3 linked regions of the Homo sapiens genome follow. The protein of the gene in region 1 interacts with the protein of each later gene in a biochemical or structural test. Each region holds a gene or a part of one and is shown on either strand. Other genes may lie near its edges. The genes, in order: WWOX, LATS1 and CPSF1.

What was found.
Region 2: the proteins of WWOX (region 1) and LATS1 interact in a test that uses a peptide from one of them, tested with the Homo sapiens proteins (one study listed by BioGRID).
Region 3: the proteins of WWOX (region 1) and CPSF1 form a complex in vitro, tested with the Homo sapiens proteins (one study listed by BioGRID).

Annotation. Positions count from the first base shown.
Region 1 is NC_000016.10:78,113,117-78,116,766, forward strand, and holds part of WWOX (WW domain-containing oxidoreductase), read left to right. Parts: intron 1-1,859; coding exon 1,860-2,038; intron 2,039-3,650. UniProt on the Homo sapiens protein: Putative oxidoreductase. Acts as a tumor suppressor and plays a role in apoptosis. Required for normal bone development. May function synergistically with p53/TP53 to control genotoxic stress-induced cell death.
Region 2 is NC_000006.12:149,683,512-149,687,161, reverse strand, and holds part of LATS1 (serine/threonine-protein kinase LATS1), read left to right. Parts: intron 1-2,569; coding exon 2,570-3,650. UniProt on the Homo sapiens protein: Negative regulator of YAP1 in the Hippo signaling pathway that plays a pivotal role in organ size control and tumor suppression by restricting proliferation and promoting apoptosis.
Region 3 is NC_000008.11:144,399,238-144,402,887, reverse strand, and holds part of CPSF1 (cleavage and polyadenylation specificity factor subunit 1), read left to right. Parts: exon of another isoform or gene 1-21; intron 22-773; exon of another isoform or gene 774-973; intron 974-1,214; coding exon 1,215-1,242; intron 1,243-1,324; coding exon 1,325-1,458; intron 1,459-1,596; coding exon 1,597-1,677; intron 1,678-1,812; coding exon 1,813-1,964; intron 1,965-2,070; coding exon 2,071-2,217; intron 2,218-2,394; coding exon 2,395-2,534; intron 2,535-2,542; exon of another isoform or gene 2,543-2,611; coding exon 2,612-2,722; exon of another isoform or gene 2,723-2,802; coding exon 2,803-2,896; intron 2,897-3,019; coding exon 3,020-3,107; intron 3,108-3,177; coding exon 3,178-3,300; intron 3,301-3,384; coding exon 3,385-3,436; intron 3,437-3,514; coding exon 3,515-3,612; intron 3,613-3,650. UniProt on the Homo sapiens protein: Component of the cleavage and polyadenylation specificity factor (CPSF) complex that plays a key role in pre-mRNA 3'-end formation, recognizing the AAUAAA signal sequence and interacting with poly(A) polymerase and other factors to bring about cleavage and poly(A) addition.

The sequences.
Region 1 (3,650 bases):
CAGCAGTTCTCAGGCATGGTTCCTGGACCAGCAGCATTAATATCACCTGGGAATTCAATAAAAATGTACATTCCCAGGCCCCCACCCCAGACCTACTGAATCAGCACTGGGGTGGGGCTTGCAATCTGCGCTCTAATAGTCATCCAGGGGATCCTGATGTTCCCTAGCTTGAGAGCCTCCCGTCTAGAGCAGGGGCTGTCTCCTTTGCCTGTAAAGGGCTAGATAATATGTTTTAGGATTTGCAGGGCATATGGTTTCTGTTGCAATGATTCAACTCTGCCTTTGTAGTGCTAAAGCAGCTATACACAATATACAAGTGATGGGCGTTGTTGTGTTCCAATAAAACTTTATTTACAGAAACAGGCAGTGGGCCAGATTTGGCCAGCTCCTGGTCTAATCTAGAGGAGTAAGCAAGGGCTTTGGGGGGAACCTGGAAATTGGCTCCCCTGGCTAGTTCTCACTTTTCTGAGCCTGTTGCAGTGGGGTGCTGGTAAATGTTTAGCACCAGGTCTTCAGGGGGAAAAAAGCCACTGTTTGTTTCCACAGTATAAATACTTTGGCCATAGCTGATTTCATGCTGCCAAGGTGAAGTGAGGAATTGGGAAGAGATAGTCACGTTTGGCTCTTGTAAGCCAGTTTGAGCCAGTCTAGCATAGAACTGCTCTGTTGTGTGTGTATAATATTGGGGTCACAAATTAAGGTTGTTATAAATAGAATGAGGATGAGGATGGTAATAATTAGAATAAAGGTTGGATTATTACTCTTGAGTCTTGGTACTTATAGGGAGATGAGTATATATTTTAAACTAATTTTACACACACATACTTTTAAAATATGAAATTTCATCTATATTTAGAGGCTTCTTAATAGTTTTTAAGATATTCTGAGGTCTTTATCTCATATCCCAAGAATACATTTAAGATATAAAAAGTAAATTCTATTATAAGGAGTACTCTTTTCATCCATATGTGCCTTTTTTTTTTTTTTTTTTTTAATGGTTACCCAGGGTCTTGGTCTGTCACCCAGGCTAGAGTGCAGTGGCACAATCATGGCTCACTGCAGCTTTGATCTCTTAGGCTCACGTGATCATCCTCCTACCTCAGCCTCCCAAGTAGCTGCGACTACAGGCGTGTGCTATCACACTTGAAATTTTGTTTAGTGTTTGTAGAGATGAGGTCTAACTATGTTGCCCAGGCTGGTCTTGAACTCCTGGGCTCAAGTGGTCCTCTTGCCTTGGCCTCCCAAATTGCCGAGATTACAGGCGTGAGCCACTGTGCCCAGCCTCCAGTATATTTTAATACCATTTCTACAAGATTTAGATCAATTCCAAATCAAAATGAGTGCTCGTAGGAGGTATGAGTGCAGAGTCTTAAAATGAAAATCGTTAGAATTTTGGTAGTTGGCAGGTTTCTTATTTACAACTAAGACTTTATCATTTTGAGTTTTCTACTTCTCTACGTCTTTAGGCCCTTGCACAGGGCTAAGAGATTTAATTGAAATCTACTGAAAAGAGTGGCTGACAGATCTTATAGCTACATTTACATGAATTACATAAAAGCCCAAAACCTTCTCAAGAAGCCTTTTTTGAGATCTAAGGATACATGGCAATAGTTATTGTATGTTACAGCGTATGTTATAGGCAGTTCTGAAGGAAAGGATTCGATGACTATCTTTTTTTGGCACAAATGTGATCCTTCTGGAGGCCAGAAGATAGATTCAGTGGGCCCCAGTTCTTTCAGGTTTAAGGAATAAGCATTTTGGTCTATGAAAAATGGGGTTTTCCTAAAGTATAAGATTGTCTTATATTTATAAATGCCTGTGTTCATTGCTGTGGGTTCACTGCTTTCTCTTTTGGGCAGCCATATAAATAAAAGAACCACCTACTTGGACCCAAGACTGGCGTTTACTGTGGATGATAATCCGACCAAGCCAACCACCCGGCAAAGATACGACGGCAGCACCACTGCCATGGAAATTCTCCAGGGCCGGGATTTCACTGGCAAAGTGGTTGTGGTCACTGGAGCTAATTCAGGAATAGGTAGGCTCTTCACTTAGTTATTTATCTTTGGGACTGCTATAATGAGATCCACTTAGATCTAGCTATAATGGAATTTTGTTTAGTGGTTCTCTGATTTAAACATGACTTTTATCCTTTTCAGATATCGTTTCATTAACATCACTACCTCTTTTTAAATCCTAATGTTGTCATGGAAGCCTGTGTAGGGGCTGACCTTGAAGTCTCTGAAAGCTGAACACTCAGCAAAAGACTGTGGCTATTTTGGTATTCAGGGATGAGAGACAACAGGCTCCGTCTAAGAGTTTTTGACCTGGTCTGCATGGTGTATGGGCATATTCCAATTACCTGGGTTATTCAAACCAAAATTGATTGGTAATAGAATACGGGGAACAACAAGGTATTATGTCTTTGGAACAAAGGATACTACAGGTTTCGACTGGTCACTGAGCATATCATTTTCTTTTGGGCACAGGATCTTATTTCTCTATAAAATTGGAGAATGAGTTCCTGTCTTCACCTCTTAATTGCCAATGTTTACCCACAGGGACTATCATGGGTAGATGGCTCAAGAGGGTATCCTTGCTTCAATATGATGGGCCATTAAGGAGACAGGAGCAAGGCGGGAGCAAACCATAACTCTTCATAGGATTTTATTCTGATTTTGCTTTGATCTATTTACATAAGTATCTGAATCAGTGAGAACCACCTGCTTTGAGTTTAGATATGCATCTTCAGATTTGTCGACATATGAAACGTTGCATTTGGCTGTCTTCTGTCAAGTTCTCTCTGTCCTTTTGGTCCCCCGCAGCCCTCACACGGCCCCCTTGATGCCCTCCTCTACTCATTTGTTTCTCTTTCCTAATTTTGTTTTTATTTTTATTTTTTGTGGGTATATAAAGGTGTCTATATTTATGGGGTTCATGAGATGTTTTGATACAGGGATGCAATGTGAAATAGTCACATCATGGAGAATGGGGTATCCATCCCCTCAAGAATTTATCCTTTGAGTGATAAACAATTCAGTTATACCCTTTTAGATATTTTACAATGTGCAATTAAGTTATTATTAACTATAATCAACTTGTTGTGCTATCAAATAGTAGGTCTTATTCTTTCTTTCTATCTTTTTTGTACCCATTAACCATCTGCACTTCTTTCTTAATTTTGAACAATTCCTTGAAGCTGCAGAAATATTTTCTAGCATGATTAGGGAGGCACAGGAGGTAAAAATACATTGTTCAAGGGTCAATTATTGTGTTGTACAAGGTGTGAAATCTACCAGGTTGCCATCCGAGTGGAGAATTTTTTTACTGTACTTGCCTATGAAGGTAAAGAAGCAAATGGAAATTTTTTTTTAAGAATTGAAAGGATTTTATTTCAAATCAACTCTCATACCTCATCCTGGGCTCCAAATATGTTCAATCCACTTGTCTGAACTTCTGCATTGGAGTAAATTTTATATAATTGTCATTGAAGTCAAAACTGATGGCGTAATATTTAAAACAATGGCTGGATCCCCAATCTAAGAAGAATACATTTTGTTGATCATATTAAGTACTGTTACAGTGAATGCATGGACCCATACAATTGTGGAATAATTAAGAAAAAAGGACTTAAGGGCTTAAAAATGTCT
Region 2 (3,650 bases), on another chromosome or scaffold:
CCGAGATCATGCCACCGCGCTCCAGCCTGGGCGACAGAGCAAGTCTCTGTCTCAAAAAAAAAAAAATAAAAATCTTGGAGATCTTGGTGAGGTTGCTACTTAATAAAGTTTAAAAACTTTTGCAGTAGGAGTAAACAGAAGAAGTAGTTGTGGTCTGGGAGTATAAGCGTATAAACCTTAAAGTAGTTATTCTGAAACAAGAGCAGATATGAGTAATACCAAAGTTTGAAATACAATCATGAGAATGATACTTGATGTGGAGTGGAAGAGGGGACGTCAAGAAGCTGAGATATGAGGGCAATAGATGGTTTATCCTCGTGGTTATTGAGGTTACAGGATGAAGGCAGGGCTTAGGGTAGACTGAATGCTGAAGCTGTGGCTGAATGAAATAGAGCAAATAGGCAGGAGCTCATTAGGTGAGAGGAATTAGTGTGGCCTCCCACATAGCATGAAGTTCAAAAGAGCTGGCTTTTTAAAAGGAATAATATCAACCTGTAAGAACAAATGTTAGAACCCCATCTTTAGGCCAGGTTATTTTTAAAGGAAACCTTAATTTCAAAGGGCTGAAAGGAAAGTAGTATCAGCAGAAGAAAACCAGCTTCAAGGAGGTGGCAGGAAAGCTTGGAGGAGAGGTTACTGATAAGGCACATTTGCTGGCTGTGGAGCCGAGTGGATCCGGAGGGCATGGTGGAAAGGTTCGGGAAGTGGAAGAACATGGAGAGCTCTGTGGGAGGCGCAGAACAACAGGGGTGACTGTATACTCTAAAAGCTGAATGAGTGACATGGTGTATTTGGCCTCAGCTGGCCTCTGAGGAAAGTGAGAAAGAGCCTGATGGCCAGAGGACTTGTCCAGTTTATCCGGAATGATAATGTTCCCCAAACATTATTTACTCACTTGCTTTTCGTCTGGCTCCTGCTTCGAGAATGTAGACCCAAAATGCTGTCCAGCCTAGATGAAAGGGAGTGTTAAACTGAACATTATGAACATTTACCACATTTTACCACTTTTTTTCTCAGATGTATTGTTAGATATATTTTTGCCCAGGATGATGTTGACCTTTCAAATTTATTAGTATTCTTTTTTGTTTTGTTTTTAATGGTAATGAGTGTTTGTATTTAGATCTCTACTTTTGTCATGCCTGGGAAGACATTCGCAAGAGGTACCCCAATACTATTGAATGGTCTTTTGTTTTTTTCTAGTGCTTACATGATTTCATCTTTAATATTTAAACCTTTAGTCTTTCTAGAATGTATATATGTATTGTCTTTATACCAGTGTATCTTGTATATTTTTCCTAAGTGGCTGGACTATTCTATTTTAAATACTTCTCTTTTTTTGGTATTGTATTTTTTTTTTTGCTTGTTTTATTGATTTGGAAATTCCGTTAAAGACAGTTTCTGTAAAATCTATACTTTATTTAATATTCAGCTAATTATAGCCTACTATCTTTTTCTGTTTTAAAAACCATATTAAAAGGCCAGGTGCAGTGGCTCACACCTGTAATCCCAGCACTTTGGAAGGCTTAGGAGGGCAGATCACTTGAGGTCGGGAGTTTAAGACCAGCCTCGCTAACATGGCGAAACCCCGTCTCTACTAAAAATACAAAAGTTAGCTGGGCGTGGTGGCGTGCGCCTGTAGTCCCAGCTACTCAGGAGGCTGAGGAAGGAGAATTACTTGAACCCGGGAGACGGAGGTTGCAGTGAGTCTGTGCCACTGCACTCCAGCCTGGGTGACAGAGTGAGACTTTGTCTCAATTTAAAAATATAGATATATATTAAAATATATTTAAAATCAGTAGAGCTATGAAAATTACAAATAGATACGCCCTTTGGCCTAATAATGCTACCTCTAATAATTTATCTACAAATATACATGCATATATATGAAATTATATCTCTTCAAAAATATATATATATTTTTTTTGAGATGGAGTCTTGCACTGTCACCCAGGCTGGAGTGCAGTGGCACGATCTCAGTTCACTGCAGCGTTGGCCTTCTTGGTTCATGCAATTCTCCTGCCTCAGCCTCCCGAGTGGCTGGGACTACAGGTGCACACCACCACGCCTGGCTAATTTTTTTGTATTTTTAGTAGAAATGGAGTTTCACCATGTTGGCCAGGCTGGTCTCGAACTCCTGGCCTCAAGTGATCTGCCTACCTCAGCCTCCCAAAGTGCTGGGATTACAGGCGTGAGCCACCACGCCTGGTCAAAAATAAATAAAATTCTAAAAGGTAAAAGGAAACCACTTAGTGAAATTTTATTTTTATAACTCTTTTTTTTCTTTTTTTGCTAAATTGAGCCAAATAACATGTATTATTACCTCACATATCATTTTTTTGTAGTGAGAATACTTCAAATTTACTCTCGGCAATTTTCAGGAGTACAATACGTTGTTATTAACTACAGTCACCATTTTGTACAAGAGATCACTTGAACTTTTTTATATTTTTATAATTCTTGAAAGAGAATTGAGTATCATTTGTAATATCAGAATTGCAAGCTAAGGTTTTCAAAAATTAGAGGTTAAAAACATGATTCTTTTTTCTCTTTATCTCTCTTATAACCATAGGGAATGTGCAGCAATCAGTTAACCGCAAACAGAGCTGGAAAGGTTCTAAAGAATCCTTAGTTCCTCAGAGGCATGGCCCGCCACTAGGAGAAAGTGTGGCCTATCATTCTGAGAGTCCCAACTCACAGACAGATGTAGGAAGACCTTTGTCTGGATCTGGTATATCAGCATTTGTTCAAGCTCACCCTAGCAACGGACAGAGAGTGAACCCCCCACCACCACCTCAAGTAAGGAGTGTTACTCCTCCACCACCTCCAAGAGGCCAGACTCCCCCTCCAAGAGGTACAACTCCACCTCCCCCTTCATGGGAACCAAACTCTCAAACAAAGCGCTATTCTGGAAACATGGAATACGTAATCTCCCGAATCTCTCCTGTCCCACCTGGGGCATGGCAAGAGGGCTATCCTCCACCACCTCTCAACACTTCCCCCATGAATCCTCCTAATCAAGGACAGAGAGGCATTAGTTCTGTTCCTGTTGGCAGACAACCAATCATCATGCAGAGTTCTAGCAAATTTAACTTTCCATCAGGGAGACCTGGAATGCAGAATGGTACTGGACAAACTGATTTCATGATACACCAAAATGTTGTCCCTGCTGGCACTGTGAATCGGCAGCCACCACCTCCATATCCTCTGACAGCAGCTAATGGACAAAGCCCTTCTGCTTTACAAACAGGGGGATCTGCTGCTCCTTCGTCATATACAAATGGAAGTATTCCTCAGTCTATGATGGTGCCAAACAGAAATAGTCATAACATGGAACTATATAACATTAGTGTACCTGGACTGCAAACAAATTGGCCTCAGTCATCTTCTGCTCCAGCCCAGTCATCCCCGAGCAGTGGGCATGAAATCCCTACATGGCAACCTAACATACCAGTGAGGTCAAATTCTTTTAATAACCCATTAGGAAATAGAGCAAGTCACTCTGCTAATTCTCAGCCTTCTGCTACAACAGTCACTGCAATTACACCAGCTCCTATTCAACAGCCTGTGAAAAGTATGCGTGTATTAAAACCAGAGCTACAGACTGCTTTAGCACCTACACACCCTTCTTGGATACCACAGCCAATTCAAAC
Region 3 (3,650 bases), on another chromosome or scaffold:
ATCTGCAGGCGTTTTGAGGAGGTTGGTGTCACTTCCTGTCCCACCTGTCTGTGGGCTGTTGGGGTGGCCTGAGCCACCTGCGGTGCCGTCAGCCCCACATGAGTGGGTGTGTGTTTTTTTTTTAAGTGTGTCATTACTTCTGAAACCTTTGGTAGAATTTGCGGGTGAAGCCCTGGAGTTGCCCTTGTCGCTGTGAGATGGGTATTGGTTTGTGGATGCTTCTTCTGTATCTCTTAACCAGCTTCCAAGATGCCCTCCCCATAGCACAAGTCCATCGTGAAAAATGACCTTGAGGTGGCTCACGCCTGTAATCCCAGCACTTTGGGAGGCTAAGGTGGGCGGATCACCTGAGGTCAGGAGTTCGAGACCAGCCTGGCCAACATGGTGAAACCCTGTCTCTACTAAAAATACAAAAATTAGCCGGACATGGTGGCACGCACCTGTAATCCCAGCTACTTGGGAGGCTGAGGCAGAATCACTTGAACCCGGGAGGCAGAGGTTGCAGTGAGCCAAGATCACGCCACTGCACTTCAGCCTGGGTGACAGAGTGAGACTCCGTCTCAAAAACAAAAAACAAAAAACAAAAAAAAACAAAACAAAAACCACTTTTCCCTTGCCTTGAGGCAATGGCATATAAATCTGCTAGCTAGTTAAACTAGCTACCTAGTAGCAAAGAACACACAGCCTCTTATCATTCTGGGAGGGCAGTGAAAAGGGAGGAGATAGAGAGGCAGCCTGGGGGAGCCCGAGGCGTCAGGATAGCGCAGGGCTTCCTCTTCTCTAACAGGCACGCAGATCAGTAGCTACAGATACCCCTTGGCTCTGGCTTCCTGCCCTGTGACATTTGGACCCAGGGGCCGGGGCTGGGCTGCTGTAGGTGTGCAACCAGGCAGGTTTGGGGGTGTGCAGACACAGAGTGCACTCTAACCCTGAGTGCTTGCCGCACAGGGCCTGGCTGCTAGGGAGCCGTGAGGTAGGGGCTTCCTGGGGAGGGGCCTGTGCCAGGGCTGGGCCGTGGGCATGAGAGCGTGAATGGGGGTCGCTGTGGGGGGCTGTGCACAGCTGTCTCCAGAAGCCCTTCTCCCTGCTGCAGAGAGGGTTTGGGCAGAGCTCCCAGGAGGCAGGGGCCAGGCTTGGTGGTCTTTTCTCGTTCCCCGGATGAGGTGAGCTGCCAGATGTGGCCCCTCACTGCCCTGTCTTTCTCTCCCCTCCAGGCTCTGACCAAGAATGACAGGAGCACAGGTGAGTGTGGTGGGGCGGCCTGGGGCTGTGCGGGTGCCAGGCATGGCTGGGCCCTGACCCTGAGCCCTGGTGTCTCCCCTAGAGGGGAAGGCCCACCGGGAGAAGCTCGAGCTTGCTGCCTCCTTCTCCTTCTTTGGCAACGTCATGTCCATGGCCAGCGTGCAGCTGGCAGGAGCCAAGCGGGATGCCCTGCTCCTAAGCTTCAAGGATGCCAAGGTGAGTGGTAGGCTTGGTGGGGTAGGCCTGGCCAAGGCGTGGGAGTGGGTGCCAGGGCCTGGGTACAGCCGTTGGTTGCCGGGGGCGACACTGTCAGGACCGGCAGTCGGCAGCCACGGCTGTGCCCTCTGACCGCAGCTGTCTGTGGTGGAGTACGACCCGGGCACCCATGACCTGAAGACCCTGTCACTGCACTACTTTGAGGAGCCTGAGCTTCGGGTAGGGCCGCGCTCCCGCCCCCGCCCAGGCCCCGCCCAGCCACCCTCCCTCCCCCTGCAGCTGGGTTCTGTGGCCCCAAGTGTTTCCCTCGGGGTCTCCTATGCTGGGCCTGGCTGATGCCCCCTCTGCCCCCAGGACGGGTTTGTGCAGAATGTACACACGCCGCGAGTGCGGGTGGACCCCGACGGGCGCTGTGCAGCCATGCTTGTCTACGGCACGCGGCTGGTGGTCCTGCCCTTCCGCAGGGAGAGCCTGGCTGAGGAGCACGAGGGGCTCGTGGGTGAGGGGTGAGTGCCAGCTGAGGCAGGCTGTGGTGCTGGGGTGGGAGGCGCCAGAGCCCGAGCTCCCCTCCCCGCCTCCCCTCCTCTCCTGCTGAAGCCCCTGGCCCCCCAGGCAGAGGTCCAGCTTCCTGCCCAGCTACATCATCGACGTGCGGGCCCTAGACGAGAAGCTGCTCAACATCATCGACCTGCAGTTCCTGCATGGCTACTACGAGCCTACCCTCCTCATCCTGTTTGAGCCCAACCAGACCTGGCCTGGGTGAGCCCCCTAAGGAGGCCCCTCTGCACTGTGGGCCCCCTAGCTGCCTCTGCCTGGGGTGGGGCCCATGGGGTTTAGGGCGGGGCCTATGGGGTGTGGTGGGGCTTGCTCGGGAGGAGCTGGGCCTGGGTCTCTGCGGGGAGGCAAGGCCCTTGGCTGACCCACTGGCGTCCCCAGGCGCGTGGCCGTGCGGCAGGACACGTGCTCCATTGTGGCCATCTCACTGAACATCACGCAGAAGGTGCACCCCGTCATCTGGTCCCTCACCAGCCTGCCCTTTGACTGCACCCAGGCTCTGGCTGTGCCCAAGCCCATAGGTGTGTGTCCTGGGAGTGGATAGGGGAGTGTGTGGAGAGAGCACTGAGCCTGCCCACCAGCCTGTGTCCACCTCCAGGTGGGGTGGTGGTGTTTGCCGTCAACTCGCTGTTGTACCTGAACCAGAGCGTCCCCCCGTATGGCGTGGCTCTCAACAGCCTCACCACAGGAACCACGGCTTTCCCGCTTCGTGAGTGTGGGGTGGCTGGGGCGGGGGGGGCCCGGGGACGGCTTGGGCCTGCCTAGTCGGCCTGACCACCCACCCCACAGGCACCCAGGAGGGTGTGCGGATCACCCTGGACTGCGCCCAGGCCACCTTCATCTCCTACGACAAGATGGTCATCTCCCTCAAGGGCGGCGAGATGTGAGCCCCTCCCCCGCCCATGAACTCTGCCCACACCGCCCCCCACAAGTCCTGTAGGGTCCCCTGGCCCCCTTCACTCCCCCAGGGTCCCCATCCCCGACTCAGAATTCTCCCTGCCCCCAGCTACGTGCTGACCCTCATCACCGACGGCATGCGCAGTGTCCGAGCGTTCCACTTTGACAAGGCGGCCGCCAGCGTCCTCACCACCAGCGTGAGTTGGGACTAGGGGTTGGGTCTGGGTCCAGACCCGGCCCAGCCATCACACACCTGCCCTCCCTCAGATGGTCACCATGGAGCCCGGGTACCTGTTCCTGGGTTCTCGCCTGGGCAATTCCCTCCTCCTCAAGTACACGGAGAAGCTGCAGGAGCCCCCGGCCAGTGCTGTCCGTGAGGCTGCCGACAAGGTGGGTTTCCTGGGCCCATTGGGCCACCACCCTTCATGTGGGCACTGCTGTGGCATGCCACTCAGTGCCCCTCCTGCCTCACAGGAAGAGCCTCCCTCAAAGAAGAAGCGAGTGGATGCGACGGCCGGCTGGTCAGGTGAGGGCCGGTCCAGGGCTGGTCAGGAGCGGGGCCAGGTGACCCAGGGCTGCGCTCAAGTGGGCTCTCTGTGTGCAGCTGCGGGTAAGTCGGTGCCGCAGGATGAGGTGGACGAGATTGAAGTGTACGGCAGCGAGGCCCAGTCGGGAACACAGCTGGCCACCTACTCCTTTGAGGTGAGATTGAGGCAGCAGGGCCCCCGTCCCAGCCAGCG